Homo sapiens: one gene and its partners. The protein of the gene in region 5 purifies or fractionates together with the protein of the main gene of each other region. This does not show direct contact. Each region holds a gene or a part of one and is shown on either strand. Other genes may lie near its edges. The genes, in order: MTCH2, GPC4, RTN4, MTNAP1, HADHB, FGF2 and POTEI.

Region 1 (3,500 bases), on a different chromosome or scaffold from region 5:
TTTCTTCATGTAGGGGTCTTGTTCCTCGCCTTCTAGGTGACATCCTTTCTTTGTGGCTGTGTAACTCACTGGCCTACCTCGTCAATACCTATGCACTGGACAGTGGGGTAGGTTGTGACCTTCGTGAGATGTGCTCACCTTGGCTTTAATCTGGCAGCTAGATTAGCTTTTAAAGTAAGATGGGCCGGGCGAGGTGGCTCACACCTGTAATCCCAGCACTTTGGGAGGCCAATGTGGGCGGATCACCTGAGATCAAGAGTTCGAGACCAGCCTGGCCAACATGGTGAAACCTCGTCTCTACTAAAAATACAGAAAAAATTAGCTGGGCGTGGTGGTGCGTGCCTATAGTCCCAGCTACTTGGGAGGCTGAGGCAGGGGAATTGCTTGAACCCAGGAGGCGGAGGTTGCAGTGAGCCAAGATCGCGCCACTGCATTCCAGCCTGGGTGACAGAAGGAGACTCCATTTCAAAAAATAAATAATAAATAAATAAACAAGATGACAGTTTGCTACATGCCAGACTGAACAATTATATAGCTAAAAATTATCAGTCAAATTTTCAAATGCTAATGAAATGAGCATACTGTTCACTGTAGAACGATACTGTTTACTGTAGAACGATACACGTTAAAAGTCCGTAAGATGTGACAGAGTATACCCAAGAGACTTAGCCCTGTGTTACTTCAGGGCTTTAAAGAGATCACTTCTTTACTGATACTTAACTTGAGAGAACCTGGGAAAGCAGGACATCTTTATGGTGTATCGGGGGCTTTTCATCTAATCTGGACTTAAGAGGGTGCCTGTATTGGGCTTTCTAGAAACCTCAGCCTTTTGAGAATCAGTCTTATCTAGAAGTTGTCTTTCTTATCTCAGCAGTTGTGGGGCCTCTTGTATGTCGGCAGCTCCATAGCATGATGATAAATTGAACACATCACAGGGTATATGACTAAATCCATGTTGTAAACCTCTTGAGTACAGAGAGGGATTTTCTTCAACGCATCTGGTAGAAAGCTAGCTGTGTAAAACAAAGGTAGTGAATTGTCCCTTAGATATACTATAAATGTGGTTTTCCAGGGACTGTATTTCTAGGATGTGTGAAAAGGTTATCAATCTCATTTTCTTTAGTATTTGAAATCCTTTTACATTCGTCCCTAAAGCATTTTAGTATAATATGAATTTGTCTGTTAATATTGAATCAGGTTGATCATTTTGACCACTGCCTTATTATTCTAATAATCAGTGTTTTATGGTTTTGTCCTCAAAATTAGTTTTAGACAGGTGTGGTGGCTCATGCTGTAATCCCAACACTTTGGGAGGCTGAAGTGGGAGGGTCACTTGAGCCCAGGAGGTCAAGGTTGTGAGATCACAGCTCACTGCACCTCCAGCCTGGGCAACAAGAGAGATGAGATCCTGTCTCAAAAAAAAAAAAAAAATTAATTTTCAAGCTGTCAAACTGATAATTTAGAGATAGACTATATTGACATGGAGAGCAAGGCACAGTAGCTCCAGCCTATGATTCCAGCGACTCAGGAGGCTTAGGTGGGAGGTTTGCCTGAAGCCAGGAGTTTGAAACCAGCCTAGGCAACATAGCAAGACACCGTCTCTTAGCTGGGCATAGTGGCTTATGCCTATAATCTCAGCACTTTGAGAGGTCAAGGTGGGAGGATCTCTTGAGCCCAGGAGTTTGAGACCAGCCTGGGCAAACATAGGGAGACCCTTATCTCAAAAAAAAAAAGACACCATTTCTTAAAAAATATTTTGAAATTAGCTGGGCGTGGTGATGTGTGCTTCAGGAGGTCACTGCACTTCAGCCTGGGTGACAGAGTGAGGCACTGTCTGAAAGAAAAAAAGAAAAGAAAAGAAAAGGAAAAAAGAATATATTGATGTGTTGTAGTGTTGTAGGTAATTAATTTAAGGCTCTTTTCCTATTTTAGGTTTCTACCATGAATGAAATGAAGAGTTATTCTCAAGCTGTCACAGGAGTGAGTTTTTTAAAATCCTTTTAACCTTCTAGGAATAGTTGTGTTTTGTTTTGTTTTCCTTTTAAATCTGGCTTGTGTCATCACTGCTTTAAGATAACCAGATGTCTCACTGGGACATCTCCCTGAAATTTGTTATATTTGTCAAAGGTAAGAATAACTCAGTTTTCGGCCAGGCGCCATGGCTCATGCCTGTAATCCTAGCACTTTGGGAAGGTGAGGTGGGCGGATCACCTGAGGTCAGGAGTTCGAGACCAGCCTGGCCAACATGATGAATCCCCGTCTCTACTAAAAATACTAACATTAGCCGAGCGTGGTGGTGCATGCCTGTAATCCCAGCTACTCGGGAGGCTGAGGCAGGAGAATCACTGGAACCTGGGAGATGGAGGCTGCAGTGAGCTGAGATCACGCCACTGCACTTCGGCCTGGGCGACAGAGTGAGACTCCATCTCAAAAAAAAAGAGAGAATAACTCAGTTTTCGAAGGAACCACAGACTCACATGTGAAAATAAAGAGAGTAAGGCAGAACCCCTGCCTCACATCCTGCATGGTTTGGTACTGCTTAGCTTTCATAAGGGGCGTGCCTTTCCTCCGAAATAATATTGTTCAGGCCAGACATGGTGGCTCACACCTGTAAACCCAGCACTTCGGGAGGCCAAGGAAGGAGGATCACTTGAGGCCAAGAGTTCAAGACCAGCCTGGGCAACTGAGCAAGACCCCATTTCTACAAAAGTGAAAAAAAAAAAAAAAAGCTGGGGCAGGCGCGGTGGCTCACTCCTGTAATCCCAGCACTTTGGGAGGCTGAGGTCGGGAGTTCGACACCACCTTGGCCAATTTGGAGAAATCTCATCTCTACTAAAACTACAAAATTAGCTGGGCATGGTGGTGCATGCCCGTAATCCCAGCTACTTGGGAGGCTGAGGCAGGAGAATCGCTTGAACCCCAGGAGGCGGAGGTTGCAGGAGAATCGCTTGAACCCAGGAGGCGGAGGTTGCAGTGAGCCAATATCACACCATTACACTCCAGCGTGGGCAACAAGAGGGAAACTCCATCTCAAAAAAAAAAAAAGTAGTTGGGTATGGTGGCGTGCGCCTATAGTCCCAGCTACTCAGGATCAGAGAATTCTTCTGGCCTTTTGTTAAAATGTTGGATGCAGTGGTGTGCTAAGAGGAAGAAGCATCTCCAGGCTCAAAACTGTAACTGTTGTCTTTCCAGGGTACCGATGAAGCGAGACAAGTGTTAGAGTGTCTCACCGCAGTGGCACTAGGCCTTTAAGGTAAAGGAAAGGAGAATAAAGACTAGGAATGATCTAATAACAGCTGCCTTGTTTCCATTTTACAGTTTTTTGCGAGTATGTTGACCTATCCCTTTGTGCTTGTCTCCAATCTTATGGCTGTCAACAACTGTGGGTAAGCACTTTGTATTTCTTATTCTAGTAGGTGGTTGACTGTATGCTGACAGGCGGAGCAGCCTTGTAGAAATTTAGGAAAGATGAATGATCAGTATCAATCTCTGATTGGTAT
Region 2 (3,500 bases), on a different chromosome or scaffold from region 5:
AGAGACGTGGTTTCACCATGTTGGCCAGGCTGGTCTAGAACTCCTGACCTCAAATGATCCAGCCTCCCAAAGTGCTGGAATTACAGGCATGAACCACCATTCCAGGCCTGTATCTAAACACTTTGAAGTGAAATAAATTTAAAGTAAATATGCATATGTTGGTATAGCTTGGAGAACGTTTTTATTCTTTTGGGGGAGTACTTGTCTTTACCACTTCATTAATAACTGAATGCTTATAGGATTTTTTTTTATTTTTTGAAACAGAGTTTCGCTCTTGTTGCCCAGGCTGGAGTGCAATGGCACGATCTCAGCTCTCCGCAACCTCCGCCTCTGGTTCAAGCCATTCTCCTGCCTCAGCCTCCAGAGTAGCTGGGATTACAGGCATGCACCACCATGCCCGGCTAATTTTGTATTTTTAGTAGAGATGGAGTTTTTCCATGTTAGTCAGGCTGGTCTTGAACTCCTGACCTCAGGTGATCCACCTCGGCCTCCCAAAGTGCTGGGATTACAGGCATGAGCTACTGCACTGGCCAGGAATTTTTCAGAAAGATTCAGAATTGTTTTTCTTAATGCCTTGAGATACACTTCTTTAAAGAATGAACAGTTGAGACTGTTGTGATTAGGCAATTTAGAGCAAATTTACCACATGCAACTGTTCAGTGTGCATCAGTTACCTTTTAACATAAAAAAACTCAAGTTTATTGTCTTTACCAAGAAGAACACAAGCTTTGAAGGGTATCAGAATATTTTATATAAATAAACAGACATACTAAAATACAAACAGGTAAAAACTAGCATTTTCAAATCTACTTGGTTAAACATCTGTTGCTTACTATAGAGAACATGAAAGTGCAGAAAATGCATGAAGCGATTCCATCCTGGAGGTAATTTGAAATATTATGTTTAAGTTCTGATGCATTTAATTCAGCAATCTGGTGGGAGAGAAAAATCAAAGAGCTGCATCAGCCAGGTATTCAACTTTTGAGAAAGAAACTCTAACAAATGTTAGAAATTAGGGGAAAAAACTGAATGGGAGAGTTAAAAAAGTCAATAACCTCCAGGAAGCCTGGAAACTATGTAAAAACATCTTATTGGAAGCCCAGATAAATGTGTGCCAGACATCAAAAAGACCAACTGCTCGGGGGAAGAAAAAAAGAACCCGGCATGACTAACTGGCAGAGTAAAAGAGGCTGCTTCAGGGAAAAAGGCATCTTTCACAAAATACAAAGAGTTTAAGCCAGAAGAGGGAAGTCCACTAGGTTTCACAAGGCCCAGGTACAAACTAGAAATTAAGTGGGCTGACAGAGAATTGAAGTTGAATCTTGCAAGGGATTTGAAAGATGGCATGTGTGATAATAATGGTGAAAAGGGTGGGTTGAGTCCAACCTATCTAGGGAGAAGCAATATGGCTTCTTTAAGGGTAAACCATGCCTGATTGATCTCTCGGGATTCTTTGTGTGGAAAAAAAAGCATGAGGATACAGGGAAGCAGACATACATCATTTAGGTTTTTAAAAATTATGCAATGGGATTCTAAGGCAAAGAATATTCAGAAAATATATTTACTTTGAGATAGGTGGGGATAGTTGGACAGAGAGGGAGAGTGAGGGAGGGAAGAGACTCCACTGTTGTAGATGGAGTAGTTTACATGGAGAAGACATGGCTTGTTAGGATGAGTAGTTCTAGCCTAACTCTGGCAAATTTGTTGTCAAATACCTTTGGTGAGGTTCTTCCCTCTTTGAAAAATGGGGTGAAATTGAACCACCTGGCACCTGAGGAGCTTTTAAAATATACTAATGCCTGGGTACCACCCCATACCAATGAAATAATACTTTTTTCAGGAAGGACTAGGCCATGATGGATGGATGGATGGATGGATGAATGTGTGTGTGTGTGTGTGTATTTTTTTTTTTTGAGATGGAGTCTTGCTCTTGTCACCCAGGCTGGCGTGCAATGGCGTGATCTCAACTTACTACAGCCTCCACTTCCTGGGTTCAAGCGATCCTTCTGCCTCAGCTTCCCGAGTAGCTGGGACTACAGGTGTGTGCTGCCACACCCGGCTGGTTTTTTGTATGTTTAGTAGAGATGGGGATTCACCATGTTGGCCAGGCTGGTCTTGAACTCCTGGCCTCAAGTGATCCACCCACCTTGGCCTCCCAAAGTATTGGTATTACAGGCGTGAGCCACTGTGCCTGGCCCATGGTAGTTTTTTTTAATTTTCTTTTTTTTTTTTTTTTTTTTTTGAGACGAAGTCTTGCTCTGTTGCCAAGGCTGGGTGCAATGGCATGATCTCCACTCACTGCAACCTCCGCCTCCTGGGTTCAAGTGATTCTCCTGCTTCAGCCTCCTGAGTAGCTGGAATTACAGGAGCACACCACCACTCCTGGCTAATTTTTTATATTTTTAGTAGAGACAGGGTTTCACCATGTTGGCCAGGCTGGTCTCGAACTCCTGACCTCGTGATCCGCCCGCCTCGGCCTCCCAAAGTGCTGGGATTACAGGCGTGAGCCAGCATGCCTGGCCTAGGTCCCTTCCATCTCTGAGATTCTATTATTCTAAATTTTCCAATGAGATTCATCACAAAATGTTGTTTGAGATAAAGCCTTTAGTTTAGAATCAGTGCATGGTTGTTTTAATTTTGGCTAACTTGGATTTAAGAGAAAGGTGTGTCAAACATGGAGGAAAATGTTTTCAATCAAGATATAAGTGTGAACCACAACTGAGTGCTGCTTTGCTGCAGGTAGAGACATAAGACAAGCACAATGAGAATACTTTGGAAAGAATTAGAACAGAATCCAGCCTTGCTGTCATTTATTGATTAAGTGTCAACATGCTAGGTGATATTTCTTCCCTTTTTCTTTATTGGTAAAATTAAAATAAATCTCTTTATCCCTTACTTTAATGTCCTCTTTGCCATGTGTTTATTCTCTTCAAGTATCTTATCAAGAAATAGAAGTACAGTAAATCCCTAGGCTTCTAGCTGGTGCAACCATCCAGAACACAGCTGGGAATGTGGAAGTAAGCAGAAAAGCCAAATGATGGAAACAGCTGTCATAAAGCCCATGCATTCTATGTGGAGAAAAGGCCTTCAGAAATTTATTATCAGCAATCATTGAATGGCTCCTGTATCCAGAGCAGTATGCTGGGTGCAGGGGATTCCAAGAGGTGTCAAGCAGGAATCAAGCTTTTGAGGAACTTGCATTCAAATTAGGTAGATAGGGTTTATACGTGAGAAGATAAAATGCTTTGGTTATCCAGTTTCCCAGTCTATGGCAGATTAGAAGTAGCAAATGGTATTGGTTGGGGGCCGATGGGAATCACAGGAAGGGATCGTGTTAGAGGCAGGTAAGACTTGACATCTGGAAGAAGTGAGAGAGGACAGTTGGAGGGTGACCAGAAGCTGAATGGGAGAGCCAGAACTTGCTGATCTTGGCAGTTTGAGATCTCCTAGAATGGGCGAATGCTCAAAGCCACCTTTGTAACCATAATCATCGAGGGCAC
Region 3 (3,500 bases), about 29 Mb from region 5:
CTGACTCCAGATTTAGTACAGGAAGCATGTGAAAGTGAATTGAATGAAGTTACTGGTACAAAGATTGCTTATGAAACAAAAATGGACTTGGTTCAAACATCAGAAGTTATGCAAGAGTCACTCTATCCTGCAGCACAGCTTTGCCCATCATTTGAAGAGTCAGAAGCTACTCCTTCACCAGTTTTGCCTGACATTGTTATGGAAGCACCATTGAATTCTGCAGTTCCTAGTGCTGGTGCTTCCGTGATACAGCCCAGCTCATCACCATTAGAAGCTTCTTCAGTTAATTATGAAAGCATAAAACATGAGCCTGAAAACCCCCCACCATATGAAGAGGCCATGAGTGTATCACTAAAAAAAGTATCAGGAATAAAGGAAGAAATTAAAGAGCCTGAAAATATTAATGCAGCTCTTCAAGAAACAGAAGCTCCTTATATATCTATTGCATGTGATTTAATTAAAGAAACAAAGCTTTCTGCTGAACCAGCTCCGGATTTCTCTGATTATTCAGAAATGGCAAAAGTTGAACAGCCAGTGCCTGATCATTCTGAGCTAGTTGAAGATTCCTCACCTGATTCTGAACCAGTTGACTTATTTAGTGATGATTCAATACCTGACGTTCCACAAAAACAAGATGAAACTGTGATGCTTGTGAAAGAAAGTCTCACTGAGACTTCATTTGAGTCAATGATAGAATATGAAAATAAGGAAAAACTCAGTGCTTTGCCACCTGAGGGAGGAAAGCCATATTTGGAATCTTTTAAGCTCAGTTTAGATAACACAAAAGATACCCTGTTACCTGATGAAGTTTCAACATTGAGCAAAAAGGAGAAAATTCCTTTGCAGATGGAGGAGCTCAGTACTGCAGTTTATTCAAATGATGACTTATTTATTTCTAAGGAAGCACAGATAAGAGAAACTGAAACGTTTTCAGATTCATCTCCAATTGAAATTATAGATGAGTTCCCTACATTGATCAGTTCTAAAACTGATTCATTTTCTAAATTAGCCAGGGAATATACTGACCTAGAAGTATCCCACAAAAGTGAAATTGCTAATGCCCCGGATGGAGCTGGGTCATTGCCTTGCACAGAATTGCCCCATGACCTTTCTTTGAAGAACATACAACCCAAAGTTGAAGAGAAAATCAGTTTCTCAGATGACTTTTCTAAAAATGGGTCTGCTACATCAAAGGTGCTCTTATTGCCTCCAGATGTTTCTGCTTTGGCCACTCAAGCAGAGATAGAGAGCATAGTTAAACCCAAAGTTCTTGTGAAAGAAGCTGAGAAAAAACTTCCTTCCGATACAGAAAAAGAGGACAGATCACCATCTGCTATATTTTCAGCAGAGCTGAGTAAAACTTCAGGTAATCCAATCTATATGCAGTTTTGTGCTTTCATGCCACTTTTGGATTTAGGGAACATTCCACTACATTTTGTGTTTTATATTATGTTTATAGTGTCTCATATGTCACATTGGTAAGAAGTCTTCTCCACTTTTTCAGTTAAAGGTTTTAGTGCTTTTTCTAACTCTCTTGCACTCAGCATTCACCCTTAACTTTTCCACACAGTTACACTTTTATATTGCACTATGGAACTATTAATAGAAAATATTTTTGTTTATAAGAATTGGCTTTAGTACCTATTTCTTTCTTTCTTTCTTTTTTCACTTGTGTTTCTTGATAACATGAAGAGCAAGAGATATTAAAATATTTTCAGATGTGTTTTTGTTATCCCAGAAATTACCATATTTAATTTTTAAAGAAAATTTCTATAGTATGTTTTAAATATTTCTATATAATATAGTACTTTTCCAGTGGTAGGTATAAAGTTAGGCATATTGAGTGTAGACATTTTGTTGAAAAGTATAAAATGAGTTATGCTATTATGAATTCTTTTGAAAAGTACCGATTCTCCTTTTTTTCTTTTGACTATCCATTTTCCACATACCTGATTTGCATAAGGTGATTTGCACAAGGTGATTTGCACATGTGCTCTTTATTAGCATTCTGATTTAGCTGCGTTTTCTCTAAAATAGTGATTATGATAAATTTACTGAATATACTTATGTATTTAAGTGCTGGTGCTTCAGCAGTACAGTCCAGCTCATCACCATTGGAACAGTGGTAGACCAGTTGCTGTAATCTAAGAAAGAGGAGATTATGAACATTCAGGCAGTGGGATGAGCACAGAGACATAGGACTTGGTGTTTGACGGATAGGGACATAAAGGATGAGGGGAAGAGGTAAAGATGACCCCAGGAACCCTGGATTTCATTTCTGGCATGTGCACTTGTATGGGTGGCAGTATGAGAAACTGAGATAGGGAACATGAGAGATTAAAGTAGGTTTAAGAGGGAAGATACAAATTTGGTTTTGGATATGTTGGTATTGATGTACATACCTCTAAGATATCCAGTAAGTTATGGATATTATACACATGAAGCTCTTGAGAGAGATCTTGGCTGTATGTGTCTGTCATGGGCTTAGAGATAGAAATTAAAGCCCCAGATACCAATTAGGAAGAATCAAGAGAAGAGGACTACTTGAAGGTGGAAGAAATGGTCAAAATTATCAAATACTGGAGAGGTCAGTTAAGGATTGCAAGTTGGTCAAAAAGGAGGGAAGATATTGTCATGACAGCGGCAAATGGTGTGGTGTGCATGGGCATGGCTAGGATTGAGAAGTGAATGAGACTTGAGTAAGTGGTTATTAAATGTTGATTACTCTTAAGAAGTTTGAGATTTTTATTGGAGAAAAATTAAAATATTAGCAAGCAGGAAGGAGAGTATGCAGTGGAGGTAGGACTTTTTTTTTAAGGTGGGAAGGGGAAAATCTGATTACAGGTGCTGGCAGAAAGTCAGAAGGGGATGGGGATGTGCTGCCTAGTTCAGGTGGAAGAATTAGTGTTAGAGAGAAGGAACGATAGAGCTTTGATTGTAGTGAGTGGAAAGGAAAGTATGGGGTATTGATACTGTTAGGGTTTTGTGACTGAAAGTTGAGGGAATTATTTGATGGTTTATGTTTGTTCTTTAAAGCAGTATGTTAGTTCATTTGCTGGGAATGAAGTAGATCATGCTTGGGTGGAAGAGATCTGCAATACCTCTGACTAGGGAAACCAAAGGCATTGTATTAGGAGCCTAATCAAGGTTGAAAGGTGGTCTAAATGGTAGGGTGACTTTTCTTTGATTGTGCCAAACAACCTAGGTATGGGTTCAGGGAAGGCAAATGATTGTATTGATTCAAGGATGTGTTTTGGCAGGTGGGCCCTGTGGAAGGACAGTAAGTCAAGAAAGTTGAGGGTGATAGCAGGAGAGTAATTTGAAGTGATGGACTGTGGCATCTAAGTTGAAGGATGTGAATAGAAAAAGGTAGGAGAGGTAGGAGGAGAGTAGATGGTCAGTGAACTCAAGGCCCAGATTAGGTTTAAGAACCAATAGTAGTAGGAATAAATACATGCCAGAATGATAGGAGATTGTGGTCAAAGTAGGGGAGAGAAAGA
Region 4 (3,500 bases), on a different chromosome or scaffold from region 5:
CCTCTCCATTTGTTAGGGTTGTTTTTGGCTGGTGGGTTTTCTGTGTCTCTTCATCTCATCAAACTATTCAGTGTCTGATTTTTTGACTTCTGCTTTGGCCCACAGAGAGTAACTTGGATACTTACAGGTAGAAAAAGCTTTGAGGAAATTTAGGCAACGTTGATGGATAAGTGTTTCCCCAACCTCCTTTCTAACGTAGAGGGTTAGTTATATATCACACGCACACACCCGTCTGTCTCAGCTTTGCTTGTGGTGTCCTCATGCCAAAATACATGAGGTCAGTTCCTCTTATGTCCCAGCTCTTTTAAAACTACAGGAATGCTGGGTGCGGTGGCTCACGCCTGTAATCCCAGCACTTTGGTAGGCCAAGGCGGGCGGATCATGAAGTCAGGAGTTCAGGATCAGCCTGTGCAATGTGGTGAAATCCATCTCTACAAAAAAAAAATTGTAAAAAGTAGCTGAGCTCAGTGGCACACGCCTGTAGTCCCAGCTACTCAGGAGGTTGAGGCAGGAGAATCACTTGAGCCCAGGAGGCGGAGGCTGCAGTGAGCTGAGATTGTGCCATTGCATTCCAGCCTGGGTGATGGAAGTGAAACCTTGTCTCAAAAATCCCAAAAAACCTACAGGAAAGCCACAGCCAGCATGTGTTGACTTGTATGTCGTTTCTCTCTCTTCTCAAAGCTGGAATGCTGGGGCTACTTTTTACCTACCTTTTCTATTCCCAATCCCCTGCTCCTTTCCATCCCTAGTGGGAGTAATTTAATTCTGCAACAAATTCTCATAGTTAAGGTATTCAGCAATATATCCCTGTATCCTAGAATTCTCTGTAAGGAAAAAAGTTGTGGTTGAGGGGAAGAGTTCTACATTCAGTTATTTTAGTTTAATATTACTAAGAACTTCATTGGAACCCAGAACAATCTTCCCTGCCGAAAGAGCTTTGTGCCCATTCTCTGTGAATGCTCTTTAGGAGAGATGCTTAAGGATTCTCTCCACACCTCCCCATGTGTCCTTACTCAAGACCAGAAACTCTCAAGGTGAGAAGGTAGATGAGAATGACCTTCAGTAATACCCTCTTTCCCGGTCCCCCAGTTCCCTCGAGCAGGGGCAGCAGACCCCACTGTGACCCACGGACCAAAGCCAGCCCACTGCCTTGTTTTTGTATGTAGTCAAAATGTACAAAAACAAGCCCTGCTCATTTGGTTAGGTGGCATCCATGGCTGTTTCACACAACAACAGCAAAGTCGAGTAGTTGCGACAGAAACCATATGCCCTGAAAAGCTGAAAATATTTACTATCTGGCCTTTACAGAAAAATTGTGCCGACCCCTGCCCTGGAAGAGCACAGTACCTCCATGCATTGGTGTGGCGAAGACGACTGGGGATTGCCGCTCTAAAACATGTTTGGATTAGGAAGCACGTTTAAGTAGGAGAAGCCTTCGTGACTTCTCTCTAGTGCCTTCGTGCCCTGTGTTGCCCACTGAATTGCCCTGTAACACCTAAGTGTAGTGGTAGCATTAAGGGATAGCTTTTCAGCCCTCAAGGTTATCAGGAGCATTTGTATCACTGCTATAAATAAAGTAGTATCACTTGTCATAATCAGGGTGCTGAAACATAATGAAAAGGTTTAACTTAGTCACAGTAAATATTTTATATCCCTGAAAATAAGTTATTTAATGAGAATAGAACTATTTAATGATCCATGAGTCCTAAAAGGATATCTGCCTTGTATTGCCAAGTTTAAGGCAAAGGTGAGATCCTGTATTAATAAGAAGACAGCTTTTTTGTTTGACATTGGTAAGTACCAAGAATTCTAACTCACATATAGTAGGAAACAACAAAAAGTCTCCACTGACTTCTTTGAATTAGATACTGAGAATCCACAATACAGTAGTGTGGATAACTTTCAAGAAGCCATTGGAAACATCTCCACATTCTGGGATGACTTGTAAATGTCTACAGAGTAATGGAAGGAAAGGCTTCCTTGTCTGCTCATTGCTGCCACCTGGGTTGGGAAAATAATTGAAGATGTTTTCTCAAGTCCTTCAAGAATCTCTTCTTAATGTTCAGAATAGTTTAAGAGCGTTGTTGAGGTAAACTGATAGCTGATTATTTTCTGAGATTTAGATCTAAACAAACTCAGCATGACGAGGAAGCACACTTCACAGCTCCAGGGTGCAATACTGATGTAAAGTTGCCTCGTGAGGATACATTTTTCGCTCATGTATGCAAAATTCCTATCAGTTCATTTGCACAGCCAGTTCCAATCATGTATGTGATCACCAGATTAAAAGCTTCATCCAGAAAGACAAGACTCCTCAGAACGAATAGTAGACAAGTAAGACTGCTACCCACAGAAGCCAGTACGCTTCAGGTGTGAGGCGGGGTAACTACTCATCTCTTCACAGAGCCAAGGAAAGAAAAAGAACGTCTCTAACATGATTTACCATTTTAAACAGCCTTATAAGTTTTGTCTCTTAAAATCATGCTGCAGAAGGAGGGGGTAAAAGTCGTGTTCTGCCCTGTCTGTGGCATTGGAGTGCCCCGCTAGGTAAGAAGCAACGCTTAGATCTTGCTTCCAGGCAGCAGCTTGAATTCCCGAATCTTCCTGCAAGGTGCATACAAATGCAGCGTGAGAATCCATACACGTAATCCATATTCACCTTCCCATCCATCCCGCAGAAGAGGCATGGTGACACCCAGGCTACTGTCCATGCTTGAGAGGACGTATTTGAAGGTTCTGTTACTACAAGTTGGGAATATTCACGGACATGCCTGAATACCCCGGCTGTAACTCACACGTGGTCTGTGTAAGTGGATTAACCTCGGGGCGGCCTTGTTTAATCCTGAATAATATCTGAAAGACTGAGTTTACTTGGGAATGTGTAGTTTTTCTAATGCACATTAAAATTTATTTTAGCTGTTAAAAATAAAATCATTTTATTATCAGCAGACTCTTTTATACTTTATGGGGCATCTACATACTACTTCCGCCACTCTTCATAATAAAATTATTTGTAAAATATAAAAAGTACTCCCCTGAGCTGATTATATGCCTCTTCTAGAGCCTCACCTGTGAAATGGGTGGGTGTGTCCCTGGGTAAGTTACCCAGTTTACTGGAGCCTCCTTTGTACTGTAATTTAGGGATAATTATTCCTACTTTGCAGACATTTGGTGAGATTAGAAGTCTTACATGTGTTAATTCCAGCAACGTCTGTGATGGTAGGAACTCATTGACAGCAGCTGTTCTAAAGCCTGTAGTATGTGCCATCATACTATATATAAATTCCAACCTTGAACGGAGGAAGAGAGGCCCTACTGCAATCCACAGGCAGATCCAGCCAACATCTGGGGCTTGCTTTGTGCCGAGTGCCATGCAAGGTTTTTTACATGTGTTTTCTCCTTTTAGTTTCAAACAGTCCTGTGGCGTAGGTGCTATCCTGCTCATTTTCCAAAAAGAAAACGGGCTTGAGGTAGAGTGATTTGCCTACGTAGCTCTGTGC
Region 5 (3,500 bases):
GGGAGGCGGAGGCTGCAGTGAGCCGAGATCGTGCCACTGCACTCCAATTTGCGCAACAAGAGCGAAACTCTGTGTCAAAAAAAAAAAAAAAAGACAAATGGGACCATATCAAAAACAGGAACACGGGGTATATACATTTGTCAAAACTCATCAAACTATACACTTAAAATCTGTGCACTTTATTGCATGCAAATTATATATCAACAACCAGCATTATACTAAAAAACAAAAGGCACACAGGAGCCAACTTGAAGGAGTGCCAGATAAAATGTGGAATAAGCTGAGCTTCAAAATGAGTAATGACTAAACTTGGCTACAATGAAATAAATAAATAAAAATCTGTAAAATCTGTAGTTTTTTATCAATTAAAAAAACTAAAAAGAGGGTTAGAAACATTGGCTTACGCCTATAGTCCCAGTTACCTGGGAGGCTTCGAGGTTGCAGTGAGCTATGATCAAGCAACTGCACTCCAGCCTTGGACAGAGTGAGACTCCATACAGAAAAAAATAAATTAAAAATTTAAAAAAAATTTTTTTTTTGAGACAAAGTCTTGCTCGATTGCCCTGCCTGGAGTCTAGTAGTGGAATCATAGCTCACTGCAACCTTCAACTCCTGAGCTGAATTCTCTTGGTTGGCTAATTTTTAAAATTTTTTTTTGTAGAGATGGAGTCTTACTATGTTGCTTAGGCTGGTCTCAAACTCCTGGGCTCAAAAGATCCTCCTACCTTGATCCTCCTGCCTTGGTTTCCTAAAGTGCTGGGATTATAGGTGTAAGACACCATGCCTAGCTAGTAGATGAGATTTTTAAAGGAAAATATGCATACAGAGAAATGCAAAGCTCTAAGGAATGAAACTTGCAAAACACCTTTCAAAAAGAGAAAGAGGGAGAGATCCAGTTGTGTGTGTGTGTGGTTTTTTATTTTTATTTTTTGAGACGGAGTTTTGCTCTTGTTGCCCAGGCTGGAGTGCAATGGCGTGATCTCGGCTCACTGCAACCTCTGCCTCCCAGGTTCAAGGGATTCTCCTGCCTCAGCCTTCCAAGTAGCTGGCATTACAGGCATGTGCTACTACGCCCAGCTAATTTTGTATTTTTAGTAGAGATGGGGTTTCTCCATGTTGGTCAGGCTGGTCTTGAACTCCCGACCTCAGGTGATCTGCCCACCTCAGCCTCCCAAAGTGCTGGGATTACAGGAGTGAGCCACCGTGCTTGGCCCAGTTTTTTTTTTTTAAGCTAGAGAAGAATCGGCCGGGCGCAGTGGCTCACACCTGTAAGCCCAGCACTTTGGGAGGCCGAGGAGGGCGGATCACGAGGTCAGGAGATCGACACCATCCTGGCTAACACAGTGAAACCCCGTCTCTACTAAAAATACAAAAAAAAAAAAGAAAAAAAAAATTAGCCGGGCATGGTGGCAGGCGCCTGTAGTCCCAGGTACTCGGGAGGCTGAGGCAGGAGAATGGCGTGAACCCGGCAGGCAGAGCTTGCAGTGAGCCGAAATCACGCCACTGCACTCCAGCCTGGGTGACAGAGCGAGACTCCGTCTCAAAAAAAAAAAAAAAAAAGCTACAGAAGAATCAGTCAGGATACAGAAGAAAAAGAAAAATCATAAAGGCATATTACTAAGAAGTCAACAGAAGAGAGGTGATTATAGCTTACAGTGTCAAGTGCTATAAAGTACAGAGACAGAGGACTGAGAAAGGATCAGTACATTGAGCAATCATAAAACCATTATTAAGAGAAGATTCTAAAGTATGGTTTCTGTAAAACAAAGGGAAAATGGAAATAATGATTATACAATTAGACAGAGGAAACTAATAATAAGGAAACAGAAACAACTGCTCTTTCACTCATGCTTGAGGTATTGCAGGAAGAAAAAAAAAACAAACATAGAGTTAGAATGGACAGAAAGGTCAACTGAAGGGTTTCTCCAAACTAAGAAAGAACTGTGGCTGGTTGAAGACACAAAGGCAAAGTGTCAGTGGAAAATGAAGAGATAATGCCTTACATGTTATGAAACAGCAACACATTTAATGATTCTCAACCAAATTATTCATCCAGCCTAATCTTATTTAACTACATCTAATTTTACATTTTTACTTGGTTTGCACATGAATCTTCAGGTGTCTTTTAGGCTTCTTTCTAGGTAAATATCTACATAATCTGTTCAGCTACCCTTATACAAGTTCCTAAGGCAATCATCAAATATATGTATTGTGTTTAGGCTGATCAATCGAGTCCTGTGGCTAGCTAAGGTAGCATTAAAGTATACTGTCAGGCTAAGACACTGTTAGGCCTGCAAAATAAAGATTGACAATATTCATAAGCTGCTTAAATTTGTATAGTACAGATGGCTAAAATAAGAACAAATTGCTATTTTATGTGTAAAAACTGGAGAAAGTGCCTTTAATGAAATAAGAACGGAAATGAAACTGCATTTACTTACGTAAGCGCTGCTCTAGCCAAATCATGTGGCATCAGGTCTTTATATCTGGGGAACGAAAACCAGTAATTTAAACCAAAACCCTAGAGCTTCAATGAAAAATTTTCATTCTATTTGAAATACCCAGAGATCATCAAACACATGCTGCTACAAACACACTTAACTTTACTATCCAAGGCAGTCCATCATTTCAAATGAAGAAATAGTGTGACTTCGCTATTTGTCATCCTTAAAAGTCTAGCAAGCCTTAACTCCTCCTGAGCTTGCTAAGAATCGAACAAAAATGTTGTCCAACACCTTAATGTTCAGTATAACATATGCTAAATTTTCTTTAAAGTGAAGCCCCACCTTTGAGGTCTCTTTTCCTTTAAACATTTTATTTTAAAAGTATATTATTTATTTATTTTGTAATGCCTACAGGGCTACAGGTGATGTATTAGGACTTTTGAAGAAACTTTTTGCTTTTAAGTAACTTGAGATTTACCAAAGAATTGGAAAGAGGCCAAGCATGGTGGCTCACACCTAGAATCCCAACATTTTGGGAGGCTGAGGTGATATGACTACTTGAGGCCAGGAGTTCAAGACCAGCCTGGGTAACAGAGCAAGCAAGACCTTGTCTCTTACAAAAAATATTAAAAATTAGCCAGGCGTGGTGGCATGGATCTGTAGTCCTAGCTACTTGGGAGGCTGAGGTGAGAAGACTGCTTAAGGCCATGAATTTGAGGCTGCTAGGATCACACCACTGCACTCCAGTCTGGGCAGCAGAGCAAGACCCTGTGTAAATACATAAATAAGAATTGGAAAAAGAGAGCAGAGTTCCTCTTTCCCCCTGCTGTTTTTTTTTTTTTTTTAAGACGGAGGTTCGCTCTTGTTGCCCAGGCTGAAGTGCAATGGCGCAATCTCAGCTCACTGCAACCTCCACCTCCAGGGTTCAAGCAATTCTCCTGCCTCAGCTTCCCGAATAGCTGGGATTACGGGCACCCACCACCACGCCCAGCTGATTTTTTTGTATTTTTAGTAGAGATGGGATTTCACCATGTTGGCCACGCTGGTCCTGAACTC
Region 6 (3,500 bases), on a different chromosome or scaffold from region 5:
AAAATCTTTCATCACACTTATTTTATGAAAATCATTTGCTGTGTAAGCAAATTAAGTATAAGCATTTTGTGTTTCCACTAGATAGATATTTGCACACAAAAAAATAGACATCAAAATCCCATATAGAAAGCTAAATGCATCTATAGTTCATTGAAGAGGAAGCTAGAAATAAGATGTGTAGAAGTCAAAGAAATAGGGCCGGGCGCGGTGGCTCATGCCTGTAATCCCAGCACTTTGGGAGGCCAAGGCAGGTGGGTCACGAGGTCAGGAGATCGAGACCATCTGGCTAACATGGTGAAACCGCGTCTCTACTAAAAATACAAAAAATTAGCTGGGCGTGGTGGTGGGCATCTGTAGTCCCAGCTACTTGGGAGACTGAGGCAGGAGAATGGTGTGAACCTGGGAGGCAGAGGTTGCAGTGAGCCGTGATTGTGCCACTGCACTCCAGCCTGGGTGACAGAGAGAGACTCCGTCTCAAAAAGTCAAGGAAATACAGCTCAAATTATAACAGTGAATAACTAGATTTTGTTTCATTTGTGAAGAATTGGCAAATAACTTTTAAATAGTTTCAACATAGGCAGTAGCATGGGAATTCTCCTACACTTTTATGTACCCTTAAAATATGTTCACTTTAAAAAATGTAAATAGTTAACAGGGGCGATTGAAAGCTAACTGCCCAACAAAGGAAACAATTCTCCGTGTGTCCCCCTTCTCTGCTCACCCTGTGACACCTTCTCTGCTCACCCTGTGACACAGGAGCGACAAGGAACTCACAAGGCACTGGTGCCCTAGTAGTTCTGCATCTCATCCTCTCTCATACAGTTTAGTTGACATCTGCTCCCTGTCACTCACCCATACCCCCAACCTCACCAATCCTCCAAAGTGGATTAGTTGTTGCTTAGGTGTGTTTTGTCTTTATATTGCGTAAATATTGTGAAGAAGGCTCTTTCCTCTGTGGTGCTACAAAGATAATTTTTTTTCCCGTTACAGTCAAGCTACAACTTCAAGCAGAAGAGAGAGGAGTTGTGTCTATCAAAGGAGTGTGTGCTAACCGTTACCTGGCTATGAAGGAAGATGGAAGATTACTGGCTTCTGTAAGCATACTTTCTGTTTTCACACGTTTTTTGTTAGCTTTTATTGCTGTTAATTTACCAGCATTGTTGTTTATCAAATCTTTATAAAGGATTTTACGTGTATCATCGTCATAGTCACCCTGTAAAATAGGGAGTATTTTCTTTATTTCACAGATGCAAAAACTGATGTGCTGAGGGAGTAAGTAAAGTAAGAAAACACAGCTCATATAAAGTAGAGACTGGATTGGGCTGGAGGCATTCCTGACCTCTAAGTCACTGCTTTTACTCTGCAAAACTATTAAGCTATAATTTAAAAAAAATTTTCTTCTATTATGCAGTTGTTTGAAGATCATTGGGAATAAATGTATACAATTTTGATTATTAGTTTTTAAGTTTCTTCTTTAGAATGTGACGTACAAAACACTAGCAATGTAGAACACTAGTTGAGAATGTAAGCTTTCTGCCTGGTACAGATGCCGACTCTGCCACTTATGAGCTCTGTGTTCTTGGGCAAATGATTCTGAGTTAGTTCTCTTACCTGTAAAATAGAAACAATGATACTATCTCATTGGGATTTTATCAGAATTTAATTAGATACTACACATCAAGTGCCCAAATCAGCATCTGACACGTAATAGATCCTGAAAATTGTTACTTCTTCCTCACATTACTTCTCATTTACATATATGTCAGGAGAGGGACTTTTTTTTTTCTTTTTTTTTTTGAGATGGAGTCTCACTCCACTGCGCAGACTGGAGTGCAGTGGCGTAATCTCGGGTCACTGTACCCTCTGCCTTCTGGGTTCAAGCAATTCTCCTGCCTCAGCCTCCCGAGTAGCTGGGATTACAGGAATGCACCACCATGCCTGGTTAATTTTTTTGTATTTTTTAGTAGAGACAGGGTTTCGCCATGTTGGCTGGGCTGGTCCTGAACTTCTGACCTCAGGTGATCCGCCTGCCTTGGCCTCCCAAAGTGCTGGGATTATAGGCGTGAGCCACCGTGCCTGGCTGTAGAGAGGAACTTTTCTTTTTTACATGTTATCACAGCTTATCAGGGGTCCTAGTTCCTGGCTAGTATTCTTTCCACTAGTACAGGCTCCCTGTCAACTTCACCATTATTATTAGAAACGGGACTGCATATCTGTTGAACATATGATGTATAAAGAATGGTGCAGGAAAATAAATATAAAAGACAGATCTCATTCCTGTCTCCGTGAGGGAGTAGATAGGACATGTATGTAAATGTTTGTGCGTGTGTGTGTTTCACAGCTCTTACACCAATGCCACTGGCCAGTTATGACATCTCTATATAACCTCCCCACAGAAAGGATCTAACAGTACTAAGAAATTGTGGTATTTTGAGCTATACAAATAGTTTTTGAAATTTCTTCTGAATGAAGACCTTTGGATTTCTAAAAGCACCAAAACAAGGCTTACAGAGAAAAAGGGTATCTAAACTATCCCAATTTCAGACTGACTGTATGACAAAGATATACTTACATTGATATTACCAGTTTATGTAATTTTTGCAGGATAAATCACAAGTTTGAGTGTAGTGGCTCTCAATTTTGGGGGGAGGTAGTTGAATAAATTTTAGAATTCTCTTTAAGAATAGCCAATACTTATTAAGTGAAAGTGTGCCAGATGCTATGGTAGGCATTGAGCTTATAAAATTGAATATCAAATTGTCTCTGCCCTTAATGAGTGACAATCCAGGGGAGGCAGAAGTGTAAATAAGTATTTATAATAATGTATAAGGGTTTTGATATGCTACTTCTATATTTTGCATACATGCATAGTAATATAGGAAAGGATAAGAAGTATTATGATATAGGAAGCAATATAGAAAATGAGGTAATTACATTTTTCTAGAATTGGGGGAGATGACCTATAAGTAGAATTTTAGACGTTGTAAAGGAAGGAGTTCAGCAGGCAGTCATGGGGCAGAAGAAATTGAGATGAAGGTATAGATAACTCTAGGACATAGGACATGAAAAGGTGTGGATAAAAAATCTACTTGATGTATCTCTAGAATTACAAGTAATTAACTAATGCTGGAATGTATAGTGCAATGGAGTAACTAGGTGGAAGGGAAGGGAGAGAAGGCTGGGGAGGTAGATAGACTGTCTGCTGAATCTGTTGAAGGGCTTTATACACCATGCTGACTATAAGCAGTGGAGAGCCATGAAGAGTTTTAAGAAGAGATCTAATTAGATTTAAATTTGAGAAAGATCATCCTGGCAGAAGTGTAGAGAATGGACTTGAGGGGGCCAAGACTGGTGGAGAGAGATCAGTTAGAAGGCCACTGTAATAGTCCAAGCAAGTCATGTTCTGATCCTGGCAATAACAGTAGGTCAGAGAGGAGTGAGGAAAGTGCTAGCACTTGTGATTGATTAGATTTAGGACTGAAGATGAAAGAAAAGTCAAA
Region 7 (3,500 bases), about 100 Mb from region 5:
ATACAAAGGGAACAAATCAATCAACAACGACAACACACACACACACACAACCTCTTCATGGTCTTTTCCCTCTATTACCTAATTTCCAAATTGGCCTTGATATTTCTGATTGCTCTCTTTTCCGCTTTCCACTTCTGCCTCATGAGCAATCAGAAATATCTTAAGCCTTGCCACTGACAGGCGCATCACCTTCGTATCTATTACTGTTTCTTAGGAACTTGCCAAAGGGGCAGGATCTCTATTCATTGAAACATATTTAAGTTTTCTTGGAGTTTTCATGTAAAACCTATTTCAGGGCAAATTTTGCCATTTTACATTCATTAGGGGAAAAAAATCCTAGGAGGGAAAAATTGAAAAATAGTAAGTATTACCTTCTACAAATTCAGTGCTTTCAAAAAAATTATTTACCACAAGCGCATTAAAAAAAAAACTGTACCCTCTAATGCTTCTTTGAAAGTAACAATATTTAAAATGAAGTCTTAGATAATTAGGTCATTTCAAAATATTTTCATTCAGGTTATGCTTGAGCTTCCAAATATGGAAGACTGGCCCTTACACAGGTCAATGTTAAAATGAATGCATTTCAGTATTTGAAGATAAAATTGGTAGATCTATACCTTGTTTTTTGATTCGATATCAGCACCGTATAAGAGCAGTGCTTTGGCCATTAATTTATCTTCATTGTAGATAGCGTAGTGTAGAGTGGTATTTCCATACTCATCTGGAATGTTTGGATCAGTGCCATGTTCCAGCAACATTAACGCACATTCATCTTCCTGGCATTGTACGGCCTGTCAGTATTAGACCAAAAACAAATTACAAATCCTAGGAATTCAAAATAACATTCCACAGCTTTCACCACCTAAGTTATATTTAAAGGAGAAAACTCATTTTTATGCTATGTATTGAAATCAAACCCACCTCATGCTGATATAGTTGGCTACTGCATACCTTTGTCAGAGCTGTCCTCTTTTTGTTGTCAAGGACATTAAGTTGACATCGTCTGTCCAGCAGGAGTTTTACTACTCCTGAATTCCCATTGGCAGAGGCCAGATGTAGAGCAGTCCTATGAGAGTGACAAGACTTTTTAGGAAATTGTAGTGCACTAGCTACAGCCATAGCAATGATTCATGTAATTGCAAACACTGAATAGCCTGCTATTACTCTGCCTTCAAAACAAACATTTAACTTTCCCATGAAAAAAGCACACTATTTATTATCTCTCTTTACTCGCTGTATTAATGAAAGAGCATCCTATATGAATACAAAGAGCATAGCCCTTGGATGACATTCAACTTGAGCTGGAATCCTACTTGAAGCTCTGTCACTTCCTGGCTGTTGCTTAGCCTTTTGGGGTCTCAGTTTCCTCATCAATAAAATAGGAATGAAAATAGTAGCTTTCTTACGGGAAACCACTGTAATGCTTAAATGAGACTCTGCACAAAAGATATAGAATAGTTCCTAACACAAATAACAGCTCAATAATTGTTAGATATTTTAATTTTTACTAATACCACTAAAGACAACATTTGAATTGAGATGATACAATTATACCTGCACTTTCAGGTGTGTTTTAAATATTACAGCTAACATTGTATTTTAGTGATTCTGAGATGATCATTGTCTCCATGTTGTCTCCACTGAAATACCACTTACAATTCATGATTTACTATAATTTGCGGCATTTAAATAATTCTCTTATTGAGGCATAAAATAATGGGGCATCATACAATCCCTGGTGTCTTACATTAAGTAGAATATGTTACAACAGGTCTGGGGCGGTTCCAGTCAGATGACCAGCATTTAGATAAATTTTAGTTCCTAAAAGAACTATGGAATAAGAGAGCAGAGGTGAAAACAAAAACAAATTTCTAAAATAAACCAATTCTTACTTTGGTTTTCAATAAACTTTAAGTCAAAGAAAACTTGGAATTCAAATGAATAGCATGGGCTCATTTTTGTCAACACTTAGATTTATACAATGTATGTACATCAGATATTTCCAATCATTCATATTAGGATTTAAGACTGTTATAAATTTTCTTGTTTTAAAATGGATTTATGAAACTATTTGTGGAGCTTTTTTCAACTTTTACATTCAGGGATACATGTGCTGGATGTGCAGGTTTGTTACATAGGTAAATGTGCACCAAGGGTGTTGGTTGTACAGATTATTTCATTACCCAGGTGTTAAGCCCAGTACCTGTTCATTCTATTTCCTGCTTCTTTCCCTCTTCCCACCCTCCACCCTCTGATAGGCCCCAGTGTGTGTTCCTTCCCTCTAGGTATCTGTGTGTTCTCATCATTTAGCTCCCACCTGTAATTGAGAACGTGCTGTATTTGGTTTTCTCTTCCTATGTTAGTTTGCTAAGGATAATGGCTTTCAACACCATCCATGTCCCTGCAAAGGACATGCTCTCGTTCCTTCTTTTATGGCTGCATATTATTCCATGCTGTTTATGTACCACATTTTAGTTCTTAAAACAACTAAAACAGTCTTTTCCCCAAGACATAAATTTTCAAAAGGGCAGTTAAAGGTTATCTATTACTATTTTCTACCTCCAGAAATGCTTTTGTTTGAAAGGAGGGAGGAAAAGCTTCAATTGAGATTAAGTCCTAATGCCCCAATTTTAAATCTCTCAGCTTGCTCAAGCCCAGCAGGAAAACATGTAGTTTTCAAAGACGGAAGGATCCTGAGAGATAGTAGAATATGCCTGCCACATAATAGGTGTCTGGCTTATGTCTGATGACTAAATGGATAGGAAAAATGGATGAACACAGCTTGGGAGTTCAATATTTTTAAAGAAAACTCCTATAGAGTAGCGCAATACATTTGCAATAGCAATAATCATTTATATTTGCTATTTTAATTTTCATAAATATATAACTCAACTAAAATGATTAATTCATACTTTTTACATGTTAATCTATATATAATGAAAAGATAATTATGGAATAAAATGTATATATAATAAAATCTACAGGAACAGGTAAACACGACCCCTCTTCTTCTGAAGAGGGTAAAAGTTCACAGAAAATAGCCAACCACAGAAATAAAAATAAATAATAGAATGTGAGGAATTATTTGCATCTATGCAAGAAGCATATTCCTTCTCTTCCCAAGGATTATTGCATTAGTAATGAACCTTAACTACAACTTCAGATGTTCATTGCAGAAATCACAGATAAGAGAAAGGGAAAAACTTCACTTACAAATCCCCAGAAACAAGTTTGATTATATTTTCTACAGATTTGCAGCTAACACGAGCAGATTCTGTTCGTGTATATGTGTAACAAACTGATTTTTTTCTCACTTGATATAGCAAAGTACATCTTTGCACGTCGACATATCTCTGTATCTACTGACACCCTCAATAGTTACATATTATTCCATCCTATGGATGCACTGAAATTTGTTCATAAAATCTTTATATGGGTTCTTCTAAATACACTGCTATTTTAAGCAATACTAAGAAAAACACATCTATTTCGTAAAGATA

Evidence for each region.
Region 1: the proteins of HADHB (region 5) and MTCH2 fractionate together in Homo sapiens (co-fractionation; one large-scale study listed by BioGRID). This does not show direct contact.
Region 2: the proteins of HADHB (region 5) and GPC4 purify together in Homo sapiens (co-immunoprecipitation; one large-scale study listed by IntAct). This does not show direct contact.
Region 3: the proteins of HADHB (region 5) and RTN4 fractionate together in Homo sapiens (co-fractionation; one large-scale study listed by BioGRID). This does not show direct contact.
Region 4: the proteins of HADHB (region 5) and MTNAP1 purify together in Homo sapiens (co-immunoprecipitation; 3 studies listed by BioGRID and IntAct, with this or other methods). This does not show direct contact.
Region 6: the proteins of HADHB (region 5) and FGF2 purify together in Homo sapiens (co-immunoprecipitation; one large-scale study listed by IntAct). This does not show direct contact.
Region 7: the proteins of HADHB (region 5) and POTEI purify together in Homo sapiens (affinity purification with mass spectrometry; 2 studies listed by BioGRID and IntAct, with this or other methods). This does not show direct contact.

The regions. Positions count from the first base shown.
Region 1 is NC_000011.10:47,625,560-47,629,059, reverse strand, and holds part of MTCH2 (mitochondrial carrier homolog 2), read left to right. Parts: intron 1-13; coding exon 14-107; intron 108-1,932; coding exon 1,933-1,980; intron 1,981-3,318; coding exon 3,319-3,386; intron 3,387-3,500. UniProt on the Homo sapiens protein: Protein insertase that mediates insertion of transmembrane proteins into the mitochondrial outer membrane. Catalyzes insertion of proteins with alpha-helical transmembrane regions, such as signal-anchored, tail-anchored and multi-pass membrane proteins.
Region 2 is NC_000023.11:133,405,490-133,408,989, reverse strand, and holds part of GPC4 (glypican-4 precursor), read left to right. Parts: intron 1-3,500. UniProt on the Homo sapiens protein: Cell surface proteoglycan that bears heparan sulfate. May be involved in the development of kidney tubules and of the central nervous system.
Region 3 is NC_000002.12:55,022,952-55,026,451, reverse strand, and holds part of RTN4 (reticulon-4), read left to right. Parts: coding exon 1-1,366; intron 1,367-3,500. UniProt on the Homo sapiens protein: Required to induce the formation and stabilization of endoplasmic reticulum (ER) tubules. They regulate membrane morphogenesis in the ER by promoting tubular ER production.
Region 4 is NC_000017.11:73,245,933-73,249,432, forward strand, and holds the end of MTNAP1 (mitochondrial nucleoid-associated protein 1), read left to right. Parts: intron 1-1,308; coding exon 1,309-1,409; 3' UTR 1,410-2,561; coding exon of another isoform or gene 2,562-2,604; 3' UTR 2,605-3,027; downstream 3,028-3,500. UniProt on the Homo sapiens protein: Critical regulator of mitochondrial DNA (mtDNA) abundance. Binds dsDNA throughout the mitochondrial genome without sequence specificity and controls mtDNA copy number by promoting its replication.
Region 5 is NC_000002.12:26,268,939-26,272,438, reverse strand, and holds part of HADHB (trifunctional enzyme subunit beta, mitochondrial isoform 1 precursor), read right to left. Parts: intron 2,487-3,500; coding exon 2,442-2,486; intron 1-2,441. UniProt on the Homo sapiens protein: Mitochondrial trifunctional enzyme catalyzes the last three of the four reactions of the mitochondrial beta-oxidation pathway.
Region 6 is NC_000004.12:122,875,331-122,878,830, forward strand, and holds part of FGF2 (fibroblast growth factor 2 isoform 18 kDa), read left to right. Parts: intron 1-990; coding exon 991-1,094; intron 1,095-3,500. UniProt on the Homo sapiens protein: Acts as a ligand for FGFR1, FGFR2, FGFR3 and FGFR4. Also acts as an integrin ligand which is required for FGF2 signaling. Binds to integrin ITGAV:ITGB3.
Region 7 is NC_000002.12:130,502,829-130,506,328, forward strand, and holds part of POTEI (POTE ankyrin domain family member I), read right to left. Parts: intron 1,067-3,500; coding exon 952-1,066; coding exon of another isoform or gene 922-951; intron 792-921; coding exon 618-791; intron 1-617.